Linked DNA regions of Homo sapiens: region 1 is linked to region 2. Evidence: fine-mapped expression QTL. A gene starts in region 2. The other region holds a variant in brackets. All regions are shown on one strand. Distances are from middle to middle.

Region 1 (15,514 bases), 51 kb after region 2:
AATGTACCAAGACCTTGTCTCTACAAAAATTTTTAAAAAGTTATCCAGGCTTGATGGCACATGCCTGTGGTCCCAGCCACTCGGGAGGCTGAGGTGGAAGGATCACCTGAGCCCAGGAGGTTGAGTCTGCAGTGAGCCATGATCATGCTATTGCCCTCTAGCTTGGGCAACAGAGCAAGACCCTGTCTCAAAAACAAAAAAAAAAAAGAAGAAGAAGAGGAAGAAGAAGAAGAAAAAGAGGAAGAAGAAGAAGAAAAAGAGGAAGAAGAAGAAGGAGGAGGAGGAAAGGAAGGAAAGGAAGGAAAGGAAAGGAAAGGAAAGGAAAGGAAAGGAAAGGAAAGGGAAAAGGGATAGGTTGAATAGGGATTGTGTGTGTGTTTGTAATTTTTGAGAGCATGGCCAGGGAAGTACTCCCTAAGGCAGGGGGTCAACTAATTACGGACTGAGGCCAAATCCAGCCTATTGCCTGTTTATGTACAATGGCAAGCTAAGAATTGTCTTACATTTTTAAATAGTTGAAAAAAGTCAAAGGAAGAATGTTTTCTGACACCTGAAAGTAACTTATGTGACATTCTATCTCAGTGCCCACAGTGAAGTTTCTTTTTTTTTTTTTTTTCTTTTTTTTTACCCTGAGTCCCGATCTGTTGCCCAGACTGGAGTTCAATGGCATGATCTCGGCTCACTGCAACCTCTGCCTCCTGGGCTCAAGCAATTCTCCTGCCTCAGCCTCCCGGGTAGCTGGGATTACAGGGGTGTGCCACCACGCCCGGCTAATTTTTATTTTTAGTAGAGATGGGGTTTCACCATGTTGGCCAGGCTGGTCTTGAACTCCTGACCTCAGGTAATCCACCTGCCTCAGCCTCCCAAAGTGCCGGGATTACAGGCGTGAGCTACCGTGCCCGGTATCAATGAAGTTTTATTGGAACACAGCTATGCTCATTGGTTTACTTACTGTCTGTGGTTGCTTTTGCCTGACAAAGGCAGAGTTGAGTATCTGCCACAGAGACCCTGTGGCCCACAGAACCTAAAATATCCACCCTCTGGTTTGTTTGTTTGTTTGTTTGTTTGTTTGAGAGGGAGTTTCGCTCCTGTTGCCCAGGCTGGAGCGCAATGGTGCGATCTTGGCTCACTGCAACCTCTACCTCTCAAGTTCAAGCGATTCTCCTGCCTCGGCCTCCTGAGTAGCTGGGATTACAGGCATGTGCCACCAGGCCTGGCTAATTTTTTGTATTTTTAGTAGAGAAGAGGTTTCACCGTGTTAGCCAGGATGGTCTTGATCTCCCGACCTCAGGTGATCCGCCCTCCTTGGCCTCCCAAAGTGCTGGGATTATAGGCATGAGCCACCACGCCCAGCCTACTCTCTGGTTTTTAACCATTCGCTGACTCCTGCCCTAAGATGTCATTTGAAGAGACACCTGAGGCAGGTGAGGGAGCCAGTCATGCATTTATCTGGGGGAATATTCTAGCAGATGTCACAGCAAATGCAAAGACCCTGAAATAGGATGTCTGCTGTGTTCTTGGCAAGGCATGAAACTCACTATGACTGGAGCAGAGTGGATGAGGTCAGAAAGCAAGGATGGACCAGATCACGCACAGTCTTTGCTCCTAGCCTGAGGCAGATGGGAGCCATGGCAGGTGTGTGTGTGTGTGTGTGTGTGTGTGTGTGTGTGTGTGTGTGTGTGAGAGAGAGAGATAGGGTTTTGCTCTGTCATCCAGGCTGGAGCACAGTGGTGCAATCATAGCTTACTGCAGCCTCAACCTCCTGGCCTCAAGTGATCCTCCCACCTCATTCTCCCAAGTAGCTGGGACTACAGACATGAGCCACCATGCCTGGCTAATTTTAAAATTTCTTGTAGAGATAGTGTCTGACTACGTTGCCCAGGCTGGTCTTAAACTCCTGTCCTCAGGTGATCCTCTCACCTTGGCTTCCCAAGGTGCCGGGATTATAGCTGTGAGCCACTGCACCCACCCGCCATGGCAGTTTTGAGGCAAGCGGTGATGTGGTCTGGCTTATTTTAACAGGATCTCTCTATTTTAAGAATAGACTGGCTGGGCACGGTGGTTCACATCTGTAATCCCAGCACTTTGGGAGGCCAATGCGGGTAGATCACCTGAGGTCGAGATCAGCCTGGCCAAAATGGCAAAACCCCGTCTCTACTAAAAATACAAAACTTAGCCAGGTGTAGTGGTGTTTGCCTGTAATCCCAGCTACTTGGGAGGCTGAGGCAGGAGAATACCTCAAATCCGGGAGGCAGAGATTGCAGTGAGCCGAGATCACGCCACTCCACTCCAGCCTGGGCAACAAAGTGAGACTCCATCTCAAAAAAAATAAAAAGAATAGAGTGAAAGATAGAGTGAAAGGGAGGGCAAGAATGGAAACAGTGAAACTAGCAATGAAGGCATTCTAATAATCTGGATGACAAATGATGAGGGGTTGAGCCAGGGAGCTGACAGAGGAGCTGGAATTTATCTAGTGGGATTCTACATCCATGTTGAAGGTACAATAGACAGGATTTGCTCTAGACTAGATACATGAGGGAGCAGTCAGGGATGACTCCGAGGTTTCTGGCCTAAGCCAATAAATGCTGGACTCTCCTTTACCAGAACTGAGAAGACTGTGGGAGGAAGACAAGGTACTCAGTTTGTGTTATAGTAAGTTTAAGATGCCTTTTGGATGTTCCAGTGGAATTGTCAAGTAAGTAGCTGGATATGGAAAGCAAGAGCTGGGAAAGGTCTAAGTTTGAGATACATATGTGGGTGTCAGCATCGTAGGGCCATAGCACTGGACGACATCACTGAGACAAGGGATGCAGATGGGAAAGAGAAAATGTAACTCATACCATGCTTATTGCTTACCCCATCCCACAGATGACCTCTCCAGTGGGCTTTCATCTTTTTGCATAATAAAATCTAAAGTTCTTACCATGTCAATGTTTCCAGAGCACTAGTCTTACCAATTTTCTCCTGGCCTATCAGCTATTAATATCATTGCACTATCCTTTCCTTTCTTCTGGCCGAGCCAGCTCATTCAGCCCTGGGGTCTTTGTCTGCAGTCTCCTCTGCCTGGAATACTCATAGACTTTTGCATGGCTTGCTGGTTAACTTTATTCATAGCTTGGTCCAAATATGAGCACTGCAGGGACCTTCCCCAACTCCTTTAACCAAACAGCTCCCCATTCATCTTGTGTCCATGACCCTGTTTTATTTTCTTTCTACCTATAAATTTGTATGTTTAGTGTTTGTCTTCTTTGGTGAAACTGTAAGCTTCCACTAGGGCACGGAAATTGTCTTACCGTTGAGCAAAGCCTGACATCATAGAAACTCAAATATGTGTTAAATTTAATGAGTAAATAAGGGAGGTACAATAATTTTCTGCTATTTACATTCTGCATTTTCTACCCAAAAGCCTAGCAATGTACCCCATAAACACTCAGTTTAGGAGAAGGCTTTGGGCTCAGTCACAGGCTTCAACACTAGACATGCAGGCAGTAACAGAGGGGACTTGGGAACCAGAGAGTGCACCTTCCAGACAAGGAGGGCAAGATAAAACATTCCTGAGTTTGGGCAGTTTTATATGACGATCAGGATAGACAACTATAAAATAAAGTGAGATGAGACGGGAGGAACAGGCAATGGTTAGACAGTCCCTTTCCAGTTCCTTGTCTGCCCTATCTTTGCAGGTGAAGGGGCTTCTCTTGGGTGTTTGGCAAGGCAAGTTTTGGTCTGATTCTGCATGGGTGAAGATACGAACACCAGGATGGAAGACTTTACAGGGATATCCAAGTTGCAGCCAAACAAAGTCTCACTCTGTCGCCCAGGCTGGAGTGCAATGGCATGATCTCAGCTCATTGCAACCTCTGCCTCCTGGGTTCAAGCGATTCTCCTGCCTCAGTCTCCTGAGTAGCTGGGATTACAGGCACCCTCCACCACGCCCGGCTAATTTTTTGTATTTTTAGTAGAGACAGTGTTTCACCGTGTTAGCCAGGATGGTCTCGATCTCCTGACCTCCTGATCTGCCCGCCTTGGCCTCCCAAAGTGCTGGGATTACAGGCGTGAGCCACCGCGCCCGGCCTTCTTTATTTTTTTGAGACAGAGTCTTGCTCTGTTGCCCAGGCTAAAGTGCAGTGAGTCCAATCTTGGCTCACTGCAACCTCCGCCTCCTTGGTTAAAGGGATTCTCCCGCCTCAGCCTCCTGAGTAGCTGGGACTATAGGCGTGCACCACCACAACCTGATAATTTTTGTATTTTTAGTAGAGATGGGGTTTCCCTATGTTGACCAGGCTGGTATCGACCTCCTGGCCTCAGATGATCCACCCGCCTCGGTCTCCCAGAGTGCTGGGATTACAGGCGTGAGCCACTATGCTTGGCCACAAAATGACTTTCTGTAGGTCTCTGCCAACAAAGAGAATCAACTTTCATCTATTCCTAAAATAAAAGCACCTTGGAGAAGGAAAAACGAGAAAAAATGAGCAGTTATGGGCTGGGTGCATTGGTTCACGCCTGTAATCCCAGCACTTTGGGAGGCCGAAGAAGGTGGATCACAAGGTCAGGAGCTTAAGACCAGCCTGACCAATATGGTGAAACCCTGTCTCTACTAAAAATATTTAAAAATTAGCCAGGTGTGGTAGTGTGTGCCTGTAATCCCAGTTACTCGGGAGACAGGCAGGAGAATCGCTTGACCCCAGGAGGCGGAGGTTGCAGCGAGCCGAGATCGAGCCACTGCACTCCAGCCTGGGCGACAGAGCAAGACTCTGTCTCAAAAAAAAAAAAGAGCAGTTATGTTGAAAGGACAGAACTTGGAAGGGCAGCTTGTTGAAATATAAAAGGAGGGTATTTTAGGGCAGTGAAACTATTCTGTATGATACTGTAATGGTAGATACATGTCACTATGCATTTGTCAAAACTCATAGTCCTGTACAACACAAAGAGTGAACTGTAATGTAAACTATAAACGTTAATTAGTAATAATGTATTACTATTCGTTCATCAAGTGTATCAAATGGACCACATCAATGCAGGATGTTACTAATAGGGGGAATTGTACAGATGGAAGGAGGGAGTTGGAGAAGAGGGCATATGAGAACTTGTCACACCGTCTGGTCAATTTTCTGTAAACTAAAACTCCTCTAAAAAAATAAAGTCTGGGTCGGGCGTGGTGGCTCATGCCTGTAATCCTAGCACTTTGGGAGGCTGAGGCGGGCAGATTACCTGAGGTCAGGAGTTCGAGACCAGACTGGCCAAAATGGTGAAACCCCGTCTCTACTAAAAATACAAAAAAATTAGCTAGGCCTAGTGGCACACGTCTGTAGTCCCAGCTACTCAGGAGGCTGAGGTATGATAATTGCTTGAACCCAGGAGGCAGAGGTTGCAGTGAGCCGAGATCATGCCATTGCACTCCAGCCTGGGTGACAAAAGCAAAACGCCCTCTCAAAAATAAATAAATAAATAAAGTCTGTTAATTTAAAAATAAATAAATGCTTAAAAGGCACTCTGTCTAATGAGTACAAAAATTGGAAGGAAAATGACCCTTCACTTCACTGTTGCATGAACAGGAAATGGAAATGTTTTTGGGCATATGTATCTCTTGGGAGAGTGAGGTGGAAAACAATACCAGCCACCATTCTTTAATTTGGATTGATCCACTGTTCTTGATTTTGAATAGCAGGTGGCTTTGCTGTGGTGTTATTGTTGTTGCTCTTTTTTTGTTTGTTTGTTTGAGACAGAGTCTTGCTCTGTCGCCTAGGCTGGAGCATAGTGGCGCGATCTCGACTCACTACAACCTCCGCCTCCCGGGTTCAAGCGATTCTCCTACTGGGATTACAAGCACATGACACCATGCCCGGTTAATTTTTGTACTTTTAGTAGAGACAGGATTTCACCATGTTGGTCAGGCTGGTCTCGAACTCCTGACCTCGTGAACCACCCACCTTGGCCTCCCAAAGTGCTGGGATTATAGGCGTGAGTCACTGTGCCCGAACGTTGCTCTTTAATGTTAGTATTTTGTTATCCCAAAGAAAGCTCTCAGACCACGGAGACTCTTAAAAGACAATATCAAATGTTTCAACAACTGACAAACCTCAGACTTCCTGTATTTCTGTAAGTTGCAGTTTTCCCTTCCTTCTTCTTCTAATTTGTTAATATCTCTGGGGCCACAGGCTCTCTCTCTCTCACACAGGTCTCTAACTAGATCAGTGGATCAAAGGTGAGGCTTTGCTAAGTAATCAGGGTAATTTCACCGGTGTAGCAAGCTATTAAAAACAGACCTGCAGGGTTTTTCAAGGACAACCAAGGTATTGATTTGGCAACCAAAAACTCCTGTAGTGCAAGCAATAATACACCAGGGCCAGTGTTTCCAACACCGTCACAACTCCTCCCCCTCCCTGTCCCTAGTGACATTACAAAAGGCACAGCTAAGGCCGATACTCCAGCTCCTATGCCCCTGCTCCTGTCTTCAAAAGGAACGTCACTGTTATAAATTAGACAAGGGAAGAAAAACCTCATTTCTTTGATGATTTTTTTAAAGAGCTTTGTTTTCCCACGCATAATTGTTCTTCCTATTCATTATGCCTTTATGTAGACTTTGCTTTTTCCTTTAAAGAATACACTTCTTATGTAATTTGTTTTGCATTTCTGGAATGAGGAACTTTTCTGCTCATATTGTTGTTAAAATCTAGACAACACGCCCGTGTGATAGATCACCCTGAGCCTTGGAAGGAAATGATTCA[C/T]CACAATACTGTAACTGAAAGTCGTCTAACACCAGGGCTGGAAGGCAGGCTATGAACCGCTGCATTACCTGCGTGCAGCAGCAATGGGAGGCAGCCAGAGGTTCCCTCGGCCTGCCTAGCTCACTTCAGCTTTGTTCCTGTTCTGTTTCCTCCGTCCGAGTAGCAGGATGCTGGAAATTCATCCTCCATTTTTAAGTTTTAAAAGAAACCCAAAAATTGTGATTTTTTTTTTTTTTTTGACACCGAGTTTTGCTCTTGTCACCCAGGCTGAAGTGCAATGGCACGATCTTGGCTCACTGCAACTTCTGCCTCCCAGGTTCAAGGGATTCTCCTGCCTTAGCCTCCTGAGTAGCTGGGATTCCAGGTGCCCAGCATATGCCCAGCTAATTTTTGTATTTTTAGTAGACTCAGTGTTTCACCATCTTGGTCAGGCTGGTCTTGAACTCCTGACCTCAGGTGATCTGCCCATCTCAGCCTCCCAAAATGTTGGGATTACAGGGGTGAGCCACTGCACCCAGCTGGGATTTTTAATAAGCCACATCTGCCCAAATGGGCCTTTCCAGGCTACTGTCTTATAATTTTGCACTTAAATTTGTATTTAAACCACACATTAATGCACTGTATGGAAAAAGTGAACACCAAACATACCTATTACTAATAAAAAGATTTCAAACAATAAAGCCAAAAGAGCAGAGAAACTAAAAATAAAAAATATGTATTTTATTTTCCTCTGCATGTTTTTGGTGAAGGCAGATCATAGATTACGCCCATGTCAGAAACAATGCAATTTTATAATTCTTATGAAAAATGGGCCAGGCGCAATGGCTCATACCTGTAATCCCAGCACCTTTGAGAGGCCTAAGTGGGTGGATCACCTGAGGTAGGGAGTTGGAGACCAGCCTGACCAACATGGAGAAACCCCGTCTCTACTAAAAATACAAAATTAGCTGGGCATGGTGGTGCATGCCCGTAATCCCAGCTACTAGGGAGGCCGAGGCAGGAGAATTGCTTGAACCCAGGAGGCAGAGGTTGCAGTGAGCCGAGATCGCTGGTTGTGGTGGTGTGCACCTGTAGTCCCAACTAGTCTGGAGGCTGTGGTGGAAGAATCTCTTGAGCCTGGGAGGTTGACGCTGCAGTGAGCCAAGATTGTCACCGAACTCCAGCCTGGGCAACAAAGCAAGACCTTGTCTCCAGAAAAACAAAAACAACAACAAAAAAAACTAATTAATATTTCAGTAAAATTTAGGTATAAATTTGGCAAGAATATAGTTCTTCACTTTTTTTCACTATGCTGCTCTTTTCTAAAATCAATTGATGAAATTTAAAAATTCGAGTGAATGTGTGTATGAAAACTGAATTAATCTGATATTTTCTTATATAAATTTGATTTCCATGATTACAGCTGAAATTGAGTTTAAGCTAACACAAATATTCAGGTGGTTTCCCTCCCTCCCTCTGTCCCTCCCTCTTTCTCTTTCTTTCTCCCTTTCTTTCTTTCTTCTTTCTTTCGACAGGATCTCTCTCTGTCGCCCAGGCTGGGTGTGGTGGCGGGTGCCTGTAATCCCAGCTGCTGGGGAGGCTGAGGCATGAGAATCACTTGAGCCTGGGAGGCAGAGGTTGCAGTGAGCCGACATCAGGCCACAGCACTCCAGCCTGGGCAACAGAATGAGACTATGTCTCAAAAGAATAAATAAAATGAAATGAAATGATGATAATAATAATAATAATAGTGCTAGTCTTAAGAGTGGGCTGTGCGGCTGGGCGCAGTGTAACCCCAGCATTTTGGGAGGCTGAGATGGGTAGATCACCTGAGGCCAAGAATTCAAGACCAGCCTGGCCAACATGATGAAACCCGTCTCTACTAAAAATACAAAAATTATCCAGGCATGGTGGCGCGCACCTGTAATCCCAGCTACTTAGAGACTGAGGCAGGAGAATCACTTGAACCCAGGAGGCAAAGGTTGCTGTGAGCCAAAGATCATGCCACTGCACTTCAGCCTGGGCGACAGAGCAAGACTCTGTCTCAAAAAAAAAAAGAGTGGGCTGTGACAGATGGATGACAATCCATTGAAAGCAGGTCTCAGCCATCTAGGTCAATCTGGGCAGCTGCTTATTTCTGTAAATAAAGTTTTATTGGAACACAGTTGAGCCTACTCATTTACATATTGGCAATGGCCTCTGTTCTACTTCCGGTTAAGACAAAGCCTCTAGCGCTCAAAGCCTAAAACAGGTATTAGCTGATGCTTTGCAGAATGTTTACTGACCCCTAATCTAAAGTATTTAGTACAGTTACTCGCATCTGGAAGATACCTGCTATTTATATGTTAAGTAAACTCAAAGGCAAAGATCAGCTTCTGTTTATCATTCTTCCTTTCCCTGGGTTCAGCAAAGGCCTTGCACATGTAGTGTGTGCTTTGTGAAATATGAAGTTAACATAATTCATGACAATAAAATATAATTGTCATGATATAGCATTCAGAGAAAGTTGATAAGTAATAAAACTTTGGGCACAGTTTCAATTTAAAATAATCCCAATCTACTTTTTCAGTATTCCGTAATTTCAGTTAGAGTGCAAATAATTATGTAATATTGGAATGCCATTCAACTGGCTTGTATTTATGTGAAGAGAAGTTGGTCAATGTGAAAGGAAACCAACATTACCATCTTTTTTTTTTGAAGCTGTAATGATCATAAAATGTAAATGCATTCTGCAAACTTCAAATAATGTGTTTTAATGGCCTAAACCCCTGGTAAAGTTAGCTTTTAGAGCAGACACAAAATAAAATTGGGTCCTGAATACTGGTTGGTGCATCATGGGGTAGAGGCAGAGGAAGAAAGAGGGGAGAGGCCAGGCGCAGTGGCTCACGCCTATAATCCCAGCACTTTGGGAGGCTGAGGCAGGCAGATCACTTGAGGTCAGGAGTTTCGAGGCCAGCCTGGCCAAAATGGTGAAACCCTGTCTCTACAGGAAAAAAAAAAATTTAGCTGGGCATGATGGCAAGTGCCTGTAATCCCAGATACGCGGGAGACTGAGGCAGGAGAATCGCTTGAACCTGGGAGGCAGAGGTTGCAGTGAGCTGAGATGGGACCACCGCACTCCAGCCTGGGTGACAGAGCGAGACGCCATCTCAAAAAAAAAATAAAAGAAAAAAAAAGAAGAAAGAGGGCAGAAAAAGAATGGAGCGAGATATCATTAGCTCACCACTCCAGCTGAAAATCAGTTCAAAGTAGAGCTCTGTGCCATACCAGTCCCCAGCGTGGGCACTTCTAATTACAGTCAATGAGCATTTTGTTTGTAAGGGAGAATTTTTTTTTTTTTTTTTAATAGGGACAGGGTCTCACTCTCTCGCCCAGGCTGGAGTGCAGCAGCATGATCATAGCTCTGCAGCCTTGAACTCCTGGGCTCAGTTGATCCTCCTGCCTTAGATTCCTGAGTAGCTGGGACTACTGGGACTACAGGTGCAGGTGTGAGCCACCACTCCTGGCCTTGGGGAGAATGTTAACTTCTAAGTAGAACTTAACCAGAGGCAACACTCAAGAATTCCCAAGAGCAGCAGGCATAGTGGCTCCCCCATGCCAGCATTTTGGGAGGCTGAGGCCAAGGATCCCTTCAGCCCAGGAGTTCCAGATGAGCCTGGGCAACGTAAGGAGACCTCATCTCTCTCTCTCTCTCTCTCTCTCTCCCTCTCTTTTTTTTTTTTTTTTTTTTTTGAGACAGGGTCTCACTCTGTTGCCCAGGTTTGGAGTACAGTGGCACGGTCTCGGCTCACTGCAGCCTCAACCTCTTGGGTTCATTGCCTCAGCCTCCCGAGTAGCTGGGATTACAGGTGTGCACCACCATGACCAGCTAATTTTTGTATTTTTAGTAGAGACAGGCTTTCACCAGCTTGGCCAAGCTGGTCTGGAACTCCTGACCTCAAGTGACCCGTCTGCCTTGGTCTCCCAAAGTGCTGGGATTACAGGTATGAGCCACTGCGCCTGGCCATGGATTTATTATTATTATTTTTTACTTTTTTATACAAAGACAGTAACCCCAAGAGGACAGAAACCTGCTCACAGCTGTATTTGGCACCTAATATGACATCTCGGAGGTATTCGAGGCTAATTTGTTGAAAAGTATGAAAGCAGGTTCTGTTTTTTTGGCTCTGTTGCCCAGGCTGGAGTGCAGTGGCGTAATCTTGGCTCACTGGAACCTCTGTCTCCCAGGCTCAAGTGATCCTCCCACTTCAACCACCCCAGTAGCTGGGACTATAGGCATGTGCCACCACAACTGGCTAATTTTTTATTTTTTGGTAGAGATGGGGGTCTTGCTGTGTAGTCCAAGCTGGTCTCAAATTCCTGGGTTCAAGTGATCCGCCCATCTCAGCCACCCAGAGTGCTGGGATTATAGTTATGAGCAACCGTGCCCTGTTAGCGGGTTATGTTCTAACCCCTGACAATGAACATTTTCCCTGCTCTCCTGGAGTGTATGTTTTAGTCAAGAAAGGCTGAAAGCGATCAAGAGAGCAAACAAGTTCATTATTAATAATCGTGATAATTGCTCTGAAGGAAACGGGGCCTAAGGTCAGAAAACCAGAATCATAATTTTTGTTCTTGACCCAGGGCCAGGCACAATATTTCGACGATGCCAAAAACTCAGTGATTTACATAAATTATACATATATATACGATTTTTTTCTTTTTCTTCTGTCACCCAGGCTGGAGTTGCAGTGGTGCGATCATAGCTCACTGCAGCCTAGAACTCCAGGGCTCAAGTGATCCTCCCACTTCAGCCTCCTGAGTAGCTAAGACCACAGGGGTGCACCACCACACCTGGCTAATTATTAATTAATTAATTATTTCAATGTTTTATTTAAAAAATTATTTATATAGAGATGGGGTCTCACTGTGTTGCCCAGACTGGTCTCAACCTCCAGGGTTGAAGCCATCCTCCCACCTCAGCCTCCCAAAGCGCTGATATTACAAGCATAAGCCACTGCACTGGGCCTATATAAATAATACTTTAGGCTGGGCACAGTGGCTCACGCCTGTAAGCCCAGCACTTTGGGAGGCCGAGGCGGGCGGATCACCTGAGGTCGGGAGTTTGAGACCAGCCTGACCAACATGAGGAAACCCCATTTCTGCTAAAAATACAAAATTAGCCGGGCATGGTGGTGCATGCCTGTAATCCCAGCTACTCGGGAGGCTGAGGCAGAAGAATCACTTGAACCCAGGAGGCAGAGGTTGCGGTGAGCTGAGATCGTGCCATTGCACTCCAGCCTGGGCAACAAGACCAAAACTCCATGTCAAAAAAAAAAAAAAAATTAGCTGGGCATGGTGGCATGCCCCTGTAGTCCCAGCTACTCGGGAGACTGAGGCAGGAAAATCGCTTGAACCTGGGAGGCGAAGGTTGTGGTGAGCCGAGATTGAGCCACTGCATTCCAGCCTGGGCAACACAGCAAGACTCTGACTCAAAAAAAAATAATAGGCCAGGCATGGTGGCTCACACCTGTAGTCCCCGCATTTTGGGAGGCCGAGGTGGGCGGATCTCTTGAGGTCAGGAGTTTGAGACCACCCTGGCCCTCATAGTGAAACCCCGTTTCTACTAAAAATGGAAAAATTAGCCAGGCGTGGTGGTACACGCTTGTAGTCCCAGCTACTCAAGAGGCGGAGGCAGGAGAATTGCTTGAACCTGGGAGGCAGAGGTTGCAGTGAGCCAAGATCACTTCACTGCACTCCAGCCTGGGTGACACAGCAAGACTTCATCTCAAAAAGAAAAATAAAAAAAATCAAAATAGGCCGGGCAACATGGCTCACGCCTGTAATCCCAACACTTTGAGAGGCTGAGGCGGGCAGATCACAAGGTCAGGAGTTCGAGACCAGCCTAACCAACATGGTGAAACTCCGGATCTACTAAAAATACAAAAAAAAATGACAGGCATGGTGGTGCGTGCCTGTAATCCCAGCTACTCAAGAGGCTGAGGCAGGAGAATCACTTGAACCCAGGAGATGGAGGTTGCAGTGAGCCGAGATTGCATCACTGCACTCCAGCCTGGGCAATAGAGTGAGACTGTGTCTCAAAAAAAAAAAAAAATCAAAATAAATGCAAACAGCCCATGATGAACAAAATATCAAACTTTTATATAATGACAGAACTGATATTAGGGTAAGGATGGCAAGGTGAGCCCTGCAATAGTTTCTCTGCTCCCGTTGCTTAATCTGCAAAATGGGATAAAATGGGATTGTATCTACCTTTTTTTGTTTTTGAGACGGAGTCTCCCTCTGTTGCCCAGGTTGGAGTGCAGTGGCAAGATCTTGGCTCACTGCAACCTCCGCCTACCGGGTTCAAGCGATTCTCCTGCCTTAGCCTCCTGAGTAGCTGGAATTACAGGCGCCTGTCACCACGCCCGGCTAATATTTTTGTATTTTTAGTAGAGACAGGGTTTCACAATGTTGGTCAGGCTTGTCTCGAACTCCTGACCTCAGATAATCCACCCGCCTGGGCCTTCCAAGGTGTGGGATTACAGGCATGAGCCACCGTGCCTGGCCTAGTATCTGCCTGTTTTTGTTTTTGTTTTTTTTTTTCTTTTTGAGACAGAGTCTTGCTCTGTCGCCCAGGCTGGAGAGCAGTGGCGTGATCTTGGCTCACTGCAACCTCAGCCTCCCAGGTTCAAGCAATTCTCCGGCCTCAGCCTCCCGAATAGCTGGGACTCCAGGCACGTGCCACCATGCCTGGCTAATTTTTTGTGTTTTTAGTAGAGACCGTGTTTCATCATGTTAGCCAGGATGGTTTCAATCTCCTGACCTCGTGATCTGCCTGCCTTGGCCTCCCAGAGTGCTGGGATTACAGGCATGAGCCACTGCGCCCAGCTTAGTATCTGCCTTTTAAGGCTTTATGAGGATTTGTCCAGAACTTCACACAGGAAGAGCTCAATACATGCTTATTACTCTTTTATTATTTTCATCAATATTATTAATCCTACGGTTGTGTACCACAGAACAAATATTTAAGCAATAACATCAAAATTTCAGAAAACTAAATGGGCTAGTTACTGTATTTTGTCGAACCTAAAACGTCACCATTTGTGAGATTTTCCATTATTTTATTTACTTATTTATTTATTCTGTAGAGTTGGGGTCTCTGTCACTATATTGGCCAGGCTGGTCTCGAGCTCCTGGGCTCAAGCGATCCTCCTATCTTGACCCTTCAAAGTGCTGGGATTACAGGCATAAACCACTGCATCTGGGCATGTTCCATTATTTTACGGACTATTAAATAAATGTTTTCAAATAATAGCAAGATGCCATTGACTGCAAAATACATATTGATTTTAGTTATATTAAAATGTAAAAACTAAAGTGCACTTTAGAATTGATAAAATATAATATTTGGGCCGGGTGCAGTGGCTCATGCCTGTAATCCCAGCACTTTGGGAGGCCAAGGTGGGCGGATCACTTGAGGTCAGGAGTTGGAGACGAGCCTGGCCAACACCCCGTCTCTACTAAAAATACAAAAATCAGCTGGACATGGCGGCTGAGCGCTTGTAATCCCAGCTAATTGGGAGGCTGAGGCAGAAGAATAGCTTCAACCCGGGAGGCGGAGGTTGCAGTCAGCTGAGATCCCACCAGGGCACTCCAGCATGGGCGACACAGTGAGACTCCGTCTCAAAAAAAAAAAAAAGAATATTCTGAGAATAAGTCTACATATTGGGTGCAGCATGCACTGGGGTGACGGGTGCACTAAAATCACAGAAGTCACCACTAAAGAGTTTATGTAACCCCAAAACCACCTGTACCCCAAAAGTTATTGAAATAAAAGTTTAAAAAATTAAGCTATTATAGGCCGGGCACGATGGCTCATGCCTGTAATCCCAGCACTTTGGGAGGCCAACGCGGGCAGATCACCTGAGGTCGGGAGTTTGAGACCAGCCTGACCAACATGGAGAAACCCCATCTCCACTAAAAAAATACAAAATTAGCCGGGGGTGGTGGCACATGCGTATAATCCCGGCTACTCCGGAGGCTGAGGCAGGAGAATCACGTGAACACGGGAGGCGGAGGTTGCGGTGAGCCAAGATCGCACCATTGCACTCCAGCCTGGGCAATAAGAGCAAAACTCCATTGCAAAAGAAAAAATTTTTTTAAAAAAATTAAGCTATTATCATTACATATGTTTATTATACTCTTTGCACATAAAAGTTTATACATTTTCGGCCGGGCGCGGTGGCTCACACCTGTAATCCCAGCACTTTGGGAGGCCGAGGTGGGCGGATCACAAGGTCAAGAGATCAAGACCATCCTGGCCAACATGATGAAACCCCGTCTCTATTAAAAGTACAAAAATTAGCTGGGCATAGTGGCACACGCCTGTAATCCCAGCTACTAGGGAGGCTGAGGCAGGAGAATCGCTTGAACCCGCGAGGCAGAGGTTGCAGTGAGCCGGGATTGTGCCACTGCACTCCAGCCTGGCGACAGGGCGGGACTCCATCTCAAAAAAAAAAAAAAAAAAGTTTATACATTTTCTAACTTTTATTGTACATTTCATTTTATCAACATAAAATTAACCTTTGGTTACTAAAAAAAATATATTGATAGATGGCAAGCATGCTTCCAAACGGATTGGACTTGTTGTAGTCAATTGATGTTTATGATTTAAAAAAAAAAAAGAAAACAAAACCTGTTCATTTAAACAATCATTATTATTTCCAGGTATTTTATGAGGAAGGGGCTTACACAGACATTTCTGTAACTAATAAATTATTTTTCTGCTTCTTTAGAGTTAATTATTCACAGTTACTTTGCGTAGTTAC
Region 2 (15,514 bases):
GTGGATCACATGAGGCCAGGAGTTGGAGACCAGCCTGGCCAACATGGTGAAACCCCTTATCTGCTAAAAATACAAAAATTAGCTGGGCATGGTAATACACACCTGTAATCCCAGCTATTTGGGAATCACTTGAACCCAGGAGGTGGAGGTTGCAGTGAGCCAAGATCGCACCACTGGTCCAGCCTGGGCAACAGAGCAAGTCTCCCCTCTCCGCCCAAAAAAATAAGAAATATGATGGAGTGTTATTTCCCACTCAGGGAAACAGCATAACTTAGTTACTGAAAATATTTATTAATAGAAAGATGTTTTGGTTCCAATTCTCAATTATCTGGGTTAAAGAAGTTACCATCACTCTCCACACAAGACCTTGTAGGATTATTTCACTGCGGTGAAGGACAATGAAGGAGGTTCAGTGGGAAACGATCTTAGGACAGAGGAAGCTTCCACTTTGCCTGGGAGGGTGAACAGCCTGGGAGACCTGGAGATGAGGGCAGGCATTCTAGGCCAAGGGGTCTTCTTGTGTGGTCAGATGGGGAAGGAAACCCTCCTGGCAAAACAGCAGAATTCTTTCTCCAGGAAAGCTTCTGAGACTGACTCTAATAGTCAATTGTGACCAACTGTCCTAGGCTCCCAGGGCCACAGCAATCCTTAGGCACCCCAAATGTGCCATCCCTGACTACCCAGCACACCCTACCCCCCCAAAGTATTGTGACAGCTCAAGGATGACTTCCTCTGAAAACCTCTGTCCAGATCTAAAACCATCCTGTTTGTTTGCTTGTAACTGTCTTTTTCTAAAAGTAACACCTCAGGATGGAGACTGTTGCCTTGTCCACTGCTGCCCCCAATGCCTGGAACAAGGTGCCTGACACAGGATTAGGCACTCGACACATAGCTGGTGAATAAATGTCACGGAATTAGCACACGTGTAGAATCAGTACACACGTTTGGCCACAGTCACTAACCGTAACTGATCAGAAATTAAAATTAACTTGCATGTTCATCAAAACTTCTACATGGCTATCAGCGACTGCCATCTAATTGCCATTCTGCAACTTCAAGAGTACAATTTCAAGAGCGTAATAAAAAAAATCGTATTTAATCACACCATAAAGTTGATCAGCACAAGCAAAAAAAAAACTGCACTATTTGGATTTATACTCACTCTCCTTATGACCCTCCAAAACAAAAATGCTGGGCATCCTAGGGCTATCTCTGACAGCAAATGCCTTCAGCTCTTGACTTAGAAACTGCTAACACACTAGACAAAACACTTCCTTAAACTCTAAGACAATGAATAATACTTTAAACCAGGTTTACATCCCTTAAAACCAATTTGCTCATCAGTAATCGTTAAAGTGGTTGTAACAATAAAGACGTTAATAACAGAATACAGCAAAATAGAAATTCTAATCTACTAACAGCAAATCACCGTTCCAATTGAATGGGGTGTGTGCACAAACACAAGCCTTCCCAGAAGCCTCCAGCTCTCCACACTCCTGCACACAGAAGGCAGCAGTAAACCGATGGCACTGCTGATAAAGTAAATTGTCTTTCTTGACAAAGAACTGGAGGAGAAAAGCAGGATATTATAATCCAACACTATAATCTAAATGCTTCTAGCTTGCAAGAAAGTGAGCGTTATGAACACGCTAAGCTTACTGAAAAGTACTTCACAAAAATGTTTTCCAATGTTTAAAAACATTTTAAAATCTTTACTCAGGTAAACGACAGAACTTAACTCATATACCCCCTAACACCTAAGGCAAGTGGGCTATTGAGTATAGCCATATTTTGAAAGAAACTTCTATTGGGATTATTTCAGTAGATACTTTTAAAATTTACCAGAGCGTAATCTTTGAAATCCAGTAGGAACCATATTGCTAGAAAAGGCTGGAATAGAAGTGTGATGTTCTTTAGGTCACTAATTACACACTGATTTGTGACTAAAGCTACCATGAATTCTACCACTACCTGTAGATCTTGAAATCAGCAAATAGGACACATTCTACACTGCTTAATAAAAAGCACAGTAATCTGTGCTTAAGTACAACTAACTAGGTACAACAGCCACTTTGCTGACAATTACTGTAACTTGGGAATATTTTTCTTTACATCCTGATGTACTCAAACTGTTAACTTTTAGAAACAGCACAGCCTCTGTTTCTTCTGATTAACAGGTTATCTTACATTGTTGATATGGAATATGCATCTACCATAATACAGCTTTGAATAAGGTATTCAAAGTCCTCAAAAACACAGAAAAATTATATTTATACACAATTTGTCATACTGCTAACAAAGCTACTTTTTCCCAAGTTACTGAGGTGTCCAAATAAGGAGTTATTAAAAAATTCAACTTAAATTGCTATTCTCTGGCCAATGCATTTGTACCCTGAAAACTACAAAATTATCTCCAAGACCTGGCTAGAAGTTTACATTTTCTCTGAAAGTTTTTCCTCTGTCTTTTACGCACAGTATTTTTTCTTAATCTGACAAGTGGAGAAAACTCTGCATAGCCATCTACTAACAATCAAAAAGCTACAGGTTTTTTTATTTTTTATTTTTAATGCTCTAAATTCTTCAACACTGTTTCAAGGAAATTACTAGGGGTCACACCCATGAGGCTAAATGGTCAACCCAACTTTCCTAATTTAGCTGTGGAAAGATGCTTCCAAGTTAAGCGAAAGAAAAAGATTGGAATATTCAAAGTTTAAGGTTACAACCTAAACTCTTCAACTTGGGAAGCTTGTAAAGGAAATAATTTCATTTTGCTGAAATTGTTCATAAATTACCAATTTTAAATAGGATTAGAGACCAAAGTACTATAAAAATATAATCATATAGCATATTTGAGTGTCATTAACTAGAAACTGCCTGAATTCATCTTAAATCAGTTAAGGTCAGTTAAGGGATCTTAGTAAGAACTTAAAGTATAACATACTAGTTTTAGTTTCAATATTAACAGATACTGTCATCTGCAAAGTGGTTTTTAAAAACATCCTGATCTGAAAAAAAGTTATAATATAAGGAAAGTGAATTTTTAAAAACTTTAATTAAGCAAGATTAAGCATTGCTATCCGTTTCTCCTATTACTACTACTTAACCAGTACAACCTTAAATATCTGTAAAAATTTGACAGGCCTAACTGCACCAAAAAAAAAAGATTTCAGCAAATTAATTAACTGTTAATAAACTGTTCTATCTTTACCTGCACTAACTCTCTGTAATGAAAACACTGAACGTGTGTATACACACATCTATCTATATATATATATATATATATATATATATATACACACACACACACAACTATGCCCACTACTAGACCACTACACCATACCACTTCTTCCAATGAGCGCTCTCAATTAAACACAATTCAAGTAACCTAGTTAAATACAAGCTTAGGCAATGCCTTTTAAGGCATAAGATCGTTCTTCTGCAAGATTTAAATATTCCCCTCCCCATCCTATCTTTTGCTGACTACATACTAAAGTTGTATATCTGGCTCTTTCCAGTCACCTGTTTGCTTTCAAAATCAAGGGGAAAAGTCTCCTTTCAATTAGTAATACAATCATTGTTCAGTAGATTTATAAACTGAAGAAAAACTCTATATTGATTACAAAAGAAACAAAAACACTTCAGTATAACTGAGATGCTTTGTTATCCTTATTTGATAGAGGTAGAAGTAAAAGTAACTATTACTCCTAACGCTGATTCAAGAAATGTCTAGAGTCTACATTTCCAGTCCACTTAACTACATTTTAAATTCCAAAGGTTTCCAGACACACCAGAAAATAATGGAACACCAATACAGAAACACTACACGAGTCTGTTAAAAACCTAGCTTCTGAGTCTGGGGGAGCTTTTCTATAGGAAGTACAGTCATGTGGAGGTCAGAAACAAGTTTTGTAAAGCTTAATAAGAACAAAGGCTAAGTAAGGAATCCAACTAACTCTCTCATACAACTTCTTCAGCTGTCTTTTCAGGTTTAGTAATTTTATTTCTCAACTTTATCATAAAATTACCAAACTGTCCCCAAATTTCCAGTAACTCAATTATGCTGATACCCTGGACAGGAAGTAATGGAGATGTTCAGAACAGTCAGTCAACAAATGTTCAAATGGAAAGCATTCCAACGTTAAATATAAAAGGGTAATATGTGGCGGCAGCTGGCTAGCGGGGGCTTCCCCCCTATTTATCTGGAAGATAGATGTGTACAAGAATTGAGCATGTCATCGTGAGCTGCAGATTTTAGGAAAGAATGGTCCCTGTTCTTCCACTTCCTTAAAGTCAGATTTCTATCTCTCCTCGTGGTCTAAATTCAAAAACCTTTGCCCCAGATACCACTGCAAATTTGTCTGTTATTACTGGTTGGGGAAAAATAACCCAGTTCACCTTACTCCAAAAACATGAGCATTTCAGAAAAGTTTTTATACTGCCTCTAAAATGAGGCCATTAAGTGATATTCAATAATCAGGCTTCCTTCACCCGAATTTAAGAAATTTCCTGCCGTCTTTGTGTAATACATTTTTTTTTTCTTCCATGTGCGTTTAAATTTTAACACCCCTCCCCCCCGCAGAATCTGGAGAAGAGGTGTGCGGATCAAGACCCCCCCGCCCGCCATTGTCTCAAGTTTAATTTACATGCTGTAACCAAACCCTTCCCTCTTTAGAATATTTAACAAGATTGAGATTCCTTTAATTCCATGTTGGTAGCTGTTCTGTAAATACCTTTCAGGTTTTTATTTTTTAACATCCCAGTAATCTAAAAACTATTCTGTTTTTAGATTTCAATTGTAGTAACTGGATTTAAAATCTTATTACATTTATTTTATTAGTGGAATACTCAGTTTATGCAACTGTCTCATGTTTTTCATTCCTACTTTCTAATTCTAAGGCTTGAAAACAGCCATTGCTCAGTCCTTCAGCTTCACCTTCCCAATTCATTCATTAAACATTCCGCTCAGGGATTAAACTGAAATGGGAAATTAGGAAGGAACGATTTAAAACAAATCATACCCAGCAACCTCAAAATCTATAACATACAGGCCATATGGGCATACAGGAGATGGGACAATTTGAATTTTTTTTTTAAGCAAATGGAAACAAAGCTTCATATAAAACATAAAAAGGGTCCAATCATTTACTTTCAAATAGAGTCAGCTAAAAGTAGCTCCTTTTTTAAAGTGGCATCTTTCAGGCAGTCAAGAGTCATTAAAACTACTCCAAAGTTCTTATCAACCAATATCATGTTTGTGACAACTGTGAGAAAAGAATGTAATTTTATAAAGTGGGAAAACAGCACATCTTTTGGGACCCCTGAGGCTCTAATCAGGCATCTCAGAATTAAGAGTGCTCCAGGGTTGGGAAATGGCTACCCTGCTGTGGCAAAAACATGCCATTTCATAATAAATGTTGTTAAGAGAGAAAAAAGTGATTAGCATGTATCTGCAATGAGGAGATAGAAGGACTTAGTCATTGCCAGGCCATTATATTCCTTAATTATTTCATCAGTTTATAAGTGACTTGATGATTAAGTCTTATTTTCAGATTTCCTCCAAAACAAGTCCACTGGAAGGGGATTAGGGGCTCCTACTCCTCCCTGAAGTTTTCCTGCCAAAAATGGAGGCTCACAAAGAAAAATGCAAATCTACCCCCACCTTAAAAAAGTAAAGGCAGTCAAAGTCAAAACCTTCACTGCTCCTCCTTCCTCCCCTACTACCTGGAAAAAAATTTTGACCTGTTAACCAAAATAGATTCCTCAGGGTAAAGGGGAGAAAAGTTTTCTACAAATTTTTTCTAAGTGGTGTATTAGTTCCTTTTTTTGAGTAAGAAGTGAAAGGGAATAGGAACCCAACACAACTGCTAAACTTCGATCTCACAAGTTACTAAAAAACAGCAAAGGTCAAACTGCAAAGCGTTAGAAAAGTGTTGTGAAGACAAAAGGATTAAAAGAGTGGGACACTAAAGAAAAAAGTGTGTGTCCTTCACCAATAAAAGTCATATCTTGTCCTCTACTTCCTCCTTCTGTAGGCAAATAAAGACAATTCTAAAGGACTAGCTTTCCTCATCACGCCAAATCATTAAAATTCCAAACAAACAGATTATTAATCCTATTCTAACAATTAAAATAAATGATGAATCTGCCTTGGAACTACTGACAACTGTATTTTAAATAACTTACTGCCTCTTGAATTTAAATATAACCGATTAAAAATGGCAGCAACATCAGGGTTAAGAAACAAAACGAAACACTATTAGTCTCCAGAACCCTGAACAAAACAATATCTAAAATAAATATGACTTCCCAGAAGGAAAAAAGTTATCTACCATTAAGGACACACCTTAAAAGTTCTTAGCACACATTAAGTAAGCACAAACTAGTGGCTTGCCTGTTATATTTTCAGACAAAAAGCAATGAGGTTATTCCTCTGCACTTGTCACTGCAGACACATCAAGGCTTTTAGAAACTACATCTATTACTCGTTGTCTAAGTATCATAAAACTTAGCATTTTAAGTCTTGTTTGATATCAATCAAGAAAGAACATCCACTTCAGGGGAAAGAAGTACAGTAAAATAAGAACATTGTAAATCTCCTTCTTGACATATACAAAAGAGAAGGTAAAAGGCCTCCTAAGACCCCTACCTAGTGGCCAGGCCTGGACGGCAGCTGTTGCTACCTCGCCTTTTCTTTTGTTGAGCTTAATCTCATGTCAAGTCATTCAACCAACTCAAAAGCAATGAAGACATAATTGAATCAACCTGAACTAAATCAGACCTAGGCTTCTTAAAACATACAGCTTAATGCTTCCAAACGATCTAGAAAACTGAAAAACCTAGCTACGCTGTAGGACACACAGTGGCCAATAATACAGGACCCCCAAACTGGCCAGTGGACCACTGCAACCGCCATTTACTTTCTCCGTGTTTAGGAATGTTCAACGCTCCAAGCCCCATAGACTGATTCAGGAAGATAAACTGAGGCTCAAGGAATTTCGAGGTAGAACAATACACCAAAGCCTTAAACCTGAAATGACTACCCTTTTCTGGGGGGTGGGGGGAAAGAAAAAGAAAAAAAAGTTTCTGGGGCTCTCAGGGCGGCCCAGATGCCAGGGTCCCAGAAGTGGCCTTTTCTAGCTCCTGTAACTAAACCTGGCGGAAAACTCCCTGCCTGCTCACCCCACCCCCACCCGCCCAAGAAAGCGCCTTCCCGTCTTCGGTGGCCCTACCCAGAATCCCAAAATGTGGGTTCCAACCCGGGCCCTGAACATCTTCTCAAACTCCCGGGACCCAGGTTCCGGCGCGCGCCCCGCGTGCCGGGTCTTGCCCCTCGGGCGGGACCGCCCAGGCAGCCCCAAATCCAGCCTCCCGGGCCCCCAGCAGCGCCCTCCGCCTCTCCACCATCCCGTCCGGCTCGCAGTCGGGGCCAAATCGAGAGACAAGAGGGCTGTGCCTGAAACTGAGCGGTTTCACCACTCGGCACCTCCTGGCAGAAACTTCCCTTAAAAAAAAAAAAAAAGAAAAGAAAAAAAAAAGCAGCAGCACTTTTGGGCTAGCATTTCAATCCTTCCTGCCCTTTAGAGTTCCCAGTTCTGCTTCCAGCTGGCTTTGGGTGTTCCACTAGAATTGAGTTGTAAAGATATTCTTTAAGTGTTTATAGAACATTAAGACTTAAAAAAATCTTTAAAATTAGAGGAGGGAAAAAAAAAGCCACCTTATCGCACACATCCAGGAAACGCAGCCCCGTGCATCCCTGTTCAGGGATGAGCAGGCGCCCCAAGACTCCCGGGGACAGATTTTTGGGCACCCGAGGGAGTCACGGGGCGCGCGTCGGGGTCCGCGGCGAGGCCCAGCCCCTCCCGCGGTCCCTTAGAGGCGCCCTCCGCCCGGCCCGAGTGGACCGTCCCGGCCATTGTTTACGGGGGGATGCCCGTCCGGACGCATTGTTTTGGCCGCTTCCAACTTGCCCCGGCCCTTCCCCGGGCATCGCGGGGGGACCCTACGCCGACGTTCCCCCTCCGCCCGCGCCCCAAGGGCCAACTGGGCAAATTGGGAGACCCGCCCCGCGGGGCGACCCAACTTTTCGGAACAGCCCCCCACCGCCCACCCCCGCAGACCCCCGCTCCCGGCGGAGATTCAGGGAACCCCGCACCCCAAGCCCCTCTGAATCGTGCGGCGTGAGTGTGACGGCCAAGAGCGGATGCAGCCCGGGATCGCCCGCACCTTCCCGCGGGCGGAAGCGCAGGAGCCGGCTGGGGAGGGGGCGCCCTAGAGGAGCGGATAGAAAGCTGAGACGGGGAACTGAGGTCATCCTGGGGGGGGACAAGACAACGAGAGCCGGGCGCCTCGGGGGCGGCGCGGGAGCCTCCGCAGGACCGGGCGGGCGCCCCGGCTGGCGCGGGCGGGGGGCGCGCCCCCTTTACCTGCGGCTCCGGCTCCTCGGCCATTTCCTCGCGCGGCGGCGGCCGGGACTGAGCTGACACCACTCGGGCCGGCCGGGTTTGAATGAGGAGGAGCGGGCGCGGAGGGGAGGGGGCGGGGAGGGCGGAGGGAGGGAGGGAGGCGTCGCGGAGTTTCTCTCAGCCTTTTGTGCGGACACCTCCCGGATTCCGCGCCCGCACCCGGCCCCCCAAAAGACACGGGGAGCCGCGGGCGAGGGGTGCAGCCATCCGCCGAGGAGCCTAGTGCCTTCGCGCCTCCAAGACCCCCCCCCAACAAAAAAGGAGCGTCCCCCACCCCCACCCCCGCCCGGAGAATATAGGGGCCGGGCTCACCTCGGGCGCGGGGCTAAGGTGAGCGGGGCGGGGGTGCGCACGGGGGCAAAGGCGCGGGCGCCCCCTACTCGTCCGCGCGGGGACAGTGCAGGCGCGGGGGGTCCCTAGAGCCGCCGGGGCGCGGCGCGTCCGGCGCTGGGGGACTGTTGGGTCAGAAAGTGTTCAGGGAGCAGCTGTTGCGCCCTCCCTCGGCCCCGCCGCTCGGAGACGCCCCGCCCCCTGCCTTCACCGGCCGCCCCGCCCCCTGCCTTCACCGGCCGCCCGGCCACGCCCCACACCGCCCCGGCCCCGCCCCAGCGCCCACGTGACTAGCATAGGCGCGCCCCTGCTCCGCCCCCCGCCGCCGACTCCGCCTCCGGGACGGGAGCGAGCGGCGAGCGCGCGCACTCCCAGTTCTCGCTCGGCGACTCCCGCGCACGCGCGCGCCGTGCCACCCTCCCCGCGCCCCCCGCCCCGCACCCCTCCTCCCGCCATCCGGCTTAACGTGGCGGGCGCGCGCCGCGGCGGTAGCCGTGACAGGTACCCGGGGAGGCCGGAGGGAGGGGGCCGCGAGGGTGTGCGCAGGCGCAGATCCGGCCCTGTCCCCGCCGCCCCCTCCTCTGCAAGGTGTGCGCGGGCGAGGGGAGGGGCCCGCGGCCCGAACCCCTGGGTCACCCCGAATTACAAACAAAAACCTTAACGCCGTTGCTCGCGGGTTAGAAGGCAGCTGTGCGCGAAAAACACCAAAGATTTTCTTCAAGCTTGAGGAAGGTCGAGAAGATAAACAGTTTTTAAATGAGTATCTTCAGAAAGCTATTTAATTGTTGTGATTTTTTTTTTTCTGAAAGGGCTGGGCTTGCGCTATTCTAACTTGAGATTTCTAAACTTAGCCTAGGTTCCAAGAATCTACTTGGTTTTGATAGAAATCCATTTGGAGGAAACCGGGGACAAAAAAAGGGACAAAAAAAAAAAAAAAAAAACCGCTACCCTTTCCCCTCCTCCCTACGCACAACTCATTTAAAGCGTTTCCCAAATGTTTTCTTTCCTTACTGAAAAAAAGGACAAAAAAAAGATCCTGATTCCTAAGGCCTGTGATATTTCCCCATTTTAAATAAGCTTCGAGGAACCATAGACATAACAAGCACATCCACAATTTTTCTACCCCAAAATGCAAACTAATGCAAATGTGAAATGGATCTATGCAAGTCGCTACTAACAAAATAGCCAAATATTTGTGTTTTTACCGGCCTTCAGCATATCCAAAATGAAAAAACTTTAAAACACATCAAGAAAAGCATTTAAAATATCTATTTCCTAAATCAAAAGAAAGAACGCACTACAGAAACGATCCGGAGCTGGTGAGCAATGCAATCTTAATAAATAGGAAAAGGAATTTGAGAAGACAGCTCAGCAAAGGGGAAGAATTTGCCAAGTGTCATGTTTTGCTGTCATTTTATATATAACTACTAACCCCACATATGGTCTGGTTAGTCTTTTTTAAAAAGGAAGCGAATCAATTACTCACAATTAATTAGCAGTGCCAGTAGATTCTTAGGCCAGCACTAAAAAACTAAATTGGGTGAATTTTTTTTCACTCAAGTCCACTGATATTGATCACTTTTAGTATTAGGATTCCTTTTCTGACAAAGGATGAATACCTATCTTTAAAATATATTTTTTAAACTTATTGTCACATTCTAAAACACAGTCCAAAAACACTTCATAAACAAGAAACTTCATTTAACTTTATGAAAACAAATGACTATGAGCCTTGCTACACAACAAAGAAACTATGACCAAGTGGAACCAGGTTGAGCCTGAAGTGTAACCTCATTCTACATGTTAATGGATAACCTTTGAACTCCGAGACCTTGAATGCTGTAAACACAATAGCACTGATAGTTAAAAATTCTAGTGTCAAAATCGAGCAAAAAGAAAAGTCCAAACTTTTCAGGGGGAATAGGGAAACAATCAAATATTTTGACAAATAATCGTTTCAGTAAGAACAAGGAGATTCCTGGCTCTCAGACCTTGTTGCTACTGAATTATTTTCTGAGCAAAAACGGTTGTGCTTGTTTTCCCCCTGTGCCCTCCAAAGCTACCACTTTGTTCACATTATAGCATCATGATTTGTTACTGTTTCGCCGCCTCTCTCAAAAAAAAAAAAGAGAGCGCCTTATTATGTTGTAGCTTTTAAAACTGAAAGATGATTATAATTCACTGATCTGTCTGCTAAGAGTTTTATTTATATGTGATCCTCCTTATGTTTGAGCAAAGAATTACAAAGAACCTTGTCCTGGAGTCGTGCCAACGAAACTGGGAAATCGTTGCAAAATTCTGCCAGTGACTGACTGCTGGGTTGCAAATACATACTGTGTTTTCAGAAGGACATAGAGGGATCTGAATTCGCCTGGGAGGGCTTTTCCCTAAGACACATTCTTCCCTTAGAATGTGAGACTCATACTTCCCATTTATTTGGAAAGCATGTATAGTTCAAACAATTAAAATATGGAAACTCCAAAAGTAACAGGAGAACACTGGAAGCATTTGGTTTTGTAATAAAAGCTAGGAACTCATACTGCACAAAGTGAAAATTGAAAATCGAACGTTGGTCTTCCTATGCTTAGCTCCACCCACAAGAAATCCAGCTTCGCCATCACTCCCTGCGTAGGCCATCTCTAAAGGAGTCAGGTGCTACTAGATGCCAGCAAAAAAACAAAGAATGGAACCAAAAGAGAAGCTCTGCACATGGTACTTGGAGAAGGGGCAGAAAATCCCCACTTCACCTTCTTTCAATGCAGCAAACATCAGCTACACCTCATTTTTCACAATCATCCAAACAGGCCCTCCTTAAGACATATTTCCTAGTATGCGCTTATAAAATCACACCATTATCTCTAATTTAATCCTAGTGATATAAGGCCTCTTCGTTTAGCCAACATCTGATTTTCTATCCAGATCCTGCCAGTCACAGCATGCTCAGATCTAGTAACATAACAAAAAAAAAAAAAGAAAAAAAAAAAAAAAACTTCTGATTTGCTGTATTTAACACTTACTGGAATCCTCTTTTGAGACTCAGCCTTAATTAGAAGAACAGAATGAGGTAGGATCTTCTTATTTCACAAGACGTTATTTTACTGTGGAACTATTATAGAAAAACTATTTGGAAACTGTGTGTAAATCCCTGGAGCTGAAACAGAGCCAACATAGATACGGGACGTAAAAGAATTCAGTGTTCAGAGCAGGAAAACCTGAAAAACTGCAGTGAGGAGTTAGCAGGAAAAGAACATGAAAAAGTTAGGCAAACCTGCCAGCATCTGCAAACTACAAAGGACATTTGAGAAGGAAACAGGGACAGCCCTTTGAACAAGACTAAATGCACTCAAGTAAGTAGGAATAACAAACAGCTCGAAGGAGCACCACATTGCTCTTTTCTATTAAGTTTCTTGATCCCATGCAAGTCACTCTTCTGTAAAGTATCACAATAATATACTATTAAAAAAATATATTTATATATATGTATATATATATATAGCAGAACTTACCTTTCAGAAGAGAAGGCAGGGTCTGGAACCTGATAACTCTGTAGGACTTCACTCTACCTGGCTCCAAACAATACTGGAAGAGATGTGATTGCGGGTTTTTATAAGCACAGCAAAAAGGGAGGGGTCAAGAATAAGACTTAATTTAAATAAAGGTTTCAGTACCCTCCCAACTTGATTGGATTAGTCAATCTTGATAAGGTTGACAGCATTTTTTAACTGGATTTGTCCTATTCGATGAGTGCCCTCCCCCACTGCAAACACAACTCATGACTCCTCTAATATTCTGGATAGTTTTCTGAAATTACCTTCACTCAAAATGTTAATGTAAAAACTCCCTTAAAAATTGCACACAAAACACAACACTGGGAACGCCTCTTTAAAGTTTTCTGCCTTCATTAGATATTCCAAACAGGAAGTTTTGGAATGAGGGACGGAGGGGAAGAAGAGGGTGACTAACATTAATTGAAATTCAATCATCATTATAATCTCAAGCCAGAATCTTAAAATCTAATCAGGATATTTCATCTCCATCTACTCCACCCTACACAGACCTTGCATCCATCAGCAAACCTTCATATGTCTCAATTGTGTCCATTTATCTTTATCTCTAACAAAAGCCTACACCAGGTACCACTGGCAGGTGCCATGCACGTGAACGCGGAGTCTGCTGTTGGAAATGTGTTGGGAAGGGAGAGTTCCCGGTAAGAATTATGTATTTAGGAGCTTTCCAAATACTGATGGCATGTTGAGCCATCAGACTGGATAAAATCACACGAAAGAGGTGCTAGTATTGGGCCCTTGGGTGGTTCAGCGCCTGGAAGTCAAGGAGAAGAGAAAGAGAGCAAAGGGGACTGAGAGGGAGCAGGCAGTGAGGTCTGAGGGACCGCAGGAGAGCATGGGGACCCAAATGCAAGGGAAGAAAGGGTGTCAGCTCCATCACGTGTTCTCCTCCAGACAGAGACAGTACTGTATATGCAGGTTTCTCCAAACTTCTTCCTTTCTAGGTTTCCCTTAATGCTTTCTCTACCTATAATCCAAGACTTTTACCCAAAAAGACTTTTACCACGGATATCAGATAAATTCACCACCCCTTAATGGCTTCCTATTGCCTTGAGGGAAAAAAAACTCCACAGCTTCCCCCACCAGCTCTGCAGATCTGGTCCCTGCCTAACTCCAGCCTCAAGTCCTGGCAAGCCCTTCACTGAGGCATCTGAACTCCAGCCTTCTCTCTGACCTAGAGCCTTCAGCCCTGGGGTTCCCCTTGCCTAGCACCTCCTTTCTCATTCTCTTCAAGAACTTGGCTTCTGTTCTGAGAGTGGTTTAAAACCCCTAGTTCCCTGGGAGGGGGAGGAGGGGGGAGGCTCTGACATAGTGTCCTGGTCATGAACATCTTCTCTCCAATAACTTGGGCTCAGATACTCAGATTCTACCTCTGGAGAGCTGCATAACCCTAGAATATTATTTAATCTCTCTCAGGTTTCAGTTTCCTTATCTATAAAAGGGGAATGATGAAGATGATGAAGACGACAATTATAATAATTGTTTGTGTTACTTATATAAGTAATAGTCACATTTCTTCAAGACTCTGGAGAATGAAATGAGACACACTACAAAGCTTGTGAGCCTAGAGTTTTGGGGGCCCTGGCACTGTTCTAGGCATGGGAGATAGAACATTAAGCAAAACAAACGAATTCCTTGTCCCATTGGGGCTTATCTTCTTGAGGGAAGCAGACAACACACTGGTAGTTATATTTACAACCTACTGGGACTGGGTCATAGGAGAGGGGAAAAGCCTGCTGTTATAGATTGAGGCTCCCTGAGGAGCAGAGACCTCCCAGGAAGTCAGGTGGCAAATCATACCGGGATGGGGAGGAGTGTTCCATTCATTCAGAGGGAACAGAAGGTGAGAAGGACCAAAGAGGAAGAGAGCCAAGCTTGGAGAAAGAATTGGAAGGCAGCCAGTGTGTCTGGGGGCCATGGAATGAAGACAGGATAGGGACAGAGGAGCAAGAAATCAAGGCAGGCCCGTGTGAAGACCGGGGATTTGACTCTCGTTGCAGCAGGATATCAGTGATCAGTTCTCTGTTCCCTAGTATTTGCCAAATCTGCAACACTTGATAGAGCTCTTTCCTGCCTTGCAGTTGGGTCCCCATGCTATCCTGATCTCCGTCAGTCCTCGCTGGCTGCTCCCTCCCAGTCCCCTTGGCTCCTTCTTTAGACTCTCTTCTTTGACTTCCAGGTGCTGACATGCCCAGGGCCCAATGCTAGCAACACTTTCTTATTCATGTGATTTTATCCAGTCCGAAGCTTCAGCATGCCATCAATATTTGGAAAGCTCCTAAATGTCCATATTTCCCACCTGGAACTCTCCCCTCAACTCCCAAAACACATTTCCAACTGCTGATTTTGTCTCTACATGAGAGGTCCCTGTGTTTACAGGGCAGAAATGTAGACCGTCCCATTCTAAGCGGCCACAATTGACCTTTTCAAAAGTCGTCGTCTGGTTATGTCATGGCCCTCATGCGTCTTAGAATAAAAACAAATTCCCGATAACACAGCCCTCATGCATCTTAGAATAAAAACAAAGTTCCCGGCTGGGCGAGATGGCTTGTGAGATGGCTCATGTCTGTAATTCATAATTCCAGCATTTTGAGAGTGAGAGTTGGGAGGACTGATTGAGTCCAGGTGTTTGAGACCAGCCCGGGCAACATAGCGAGACCCCATGTCTACAAAAAAATAAAAAATTAGCCGTTGTGTGCCTATACTCCCAGCTACTCAGGAGGATGAGGTGGGAGGATCACTTGAGCCAGGGAGGTTGAGGCTGCAATAAGCCGAGATTGTGCCACTGTACTCAGCCTGGGCAACAGAGTAAGATCCTGTCTCAGAAAACAACAACTAAACAAAAAAAAAACAACAACAACAAAACAAAACAAAAGTCCTGAGAACATGGCTGTCAAGATCTGGTGGGCCATGCTAAGACTCTGGGATTTATTCCAAGAGCACTGGGAAGCCACTAAAGGAAATGGAAATAAAACCAAAAGAACCATTGAACGTCAAGTAACTGTTTCTTTCCCAAGAGATGTTAATGTCTCCCAAAAGACCCCATCCTGGTTTAACAAAGAGGATATGACAAACTGTAAGAAGTTGGAGTCCTGCTGGGTGTGGTGGCTCACGCCTGTAATCCCAGCACTTTGGGAGGCCGAGGTGGGTGGATCA

The links. PIP is the estimated chance that this variant, and not a neighbour inherited with it, causes the effect.
Region 1: its variant is fine-mapped to the expression of ZNF217 in whole blood (INTERVAL, PIP 0.96).

What each region holds. Positions count from the first base shown.
Region 1 is chr20:53,636,578-53,652,091 of GRCh38, forward strand. No RefSeq gene overlaps it. Among named protein-coding and RNA genes, the nearest start is that of ZNF217, 50 kb to the left of the region's middle. RefSeq lists enhancers at 6,702-6,751, 6,792-6,841. The variant C/T (reference allele first, on the strand shown) is at 6,726.
Region 2 is chr20:53,585,333-53,600,846 of GRCh38, forward strand. It overlaps ZNF217 (zinc finger protein 217), which reads right to left and starts at 8,507. Exons shown (of 6, transcript NM_006526.3): 1 at 8,424-8,507. RefSeq lists silencers at 7,218-7,457, 7,878-8,027, 8,518-8,597, 8,688-9,527 and enhancers at 11,328-11,377, 12,968-13,468.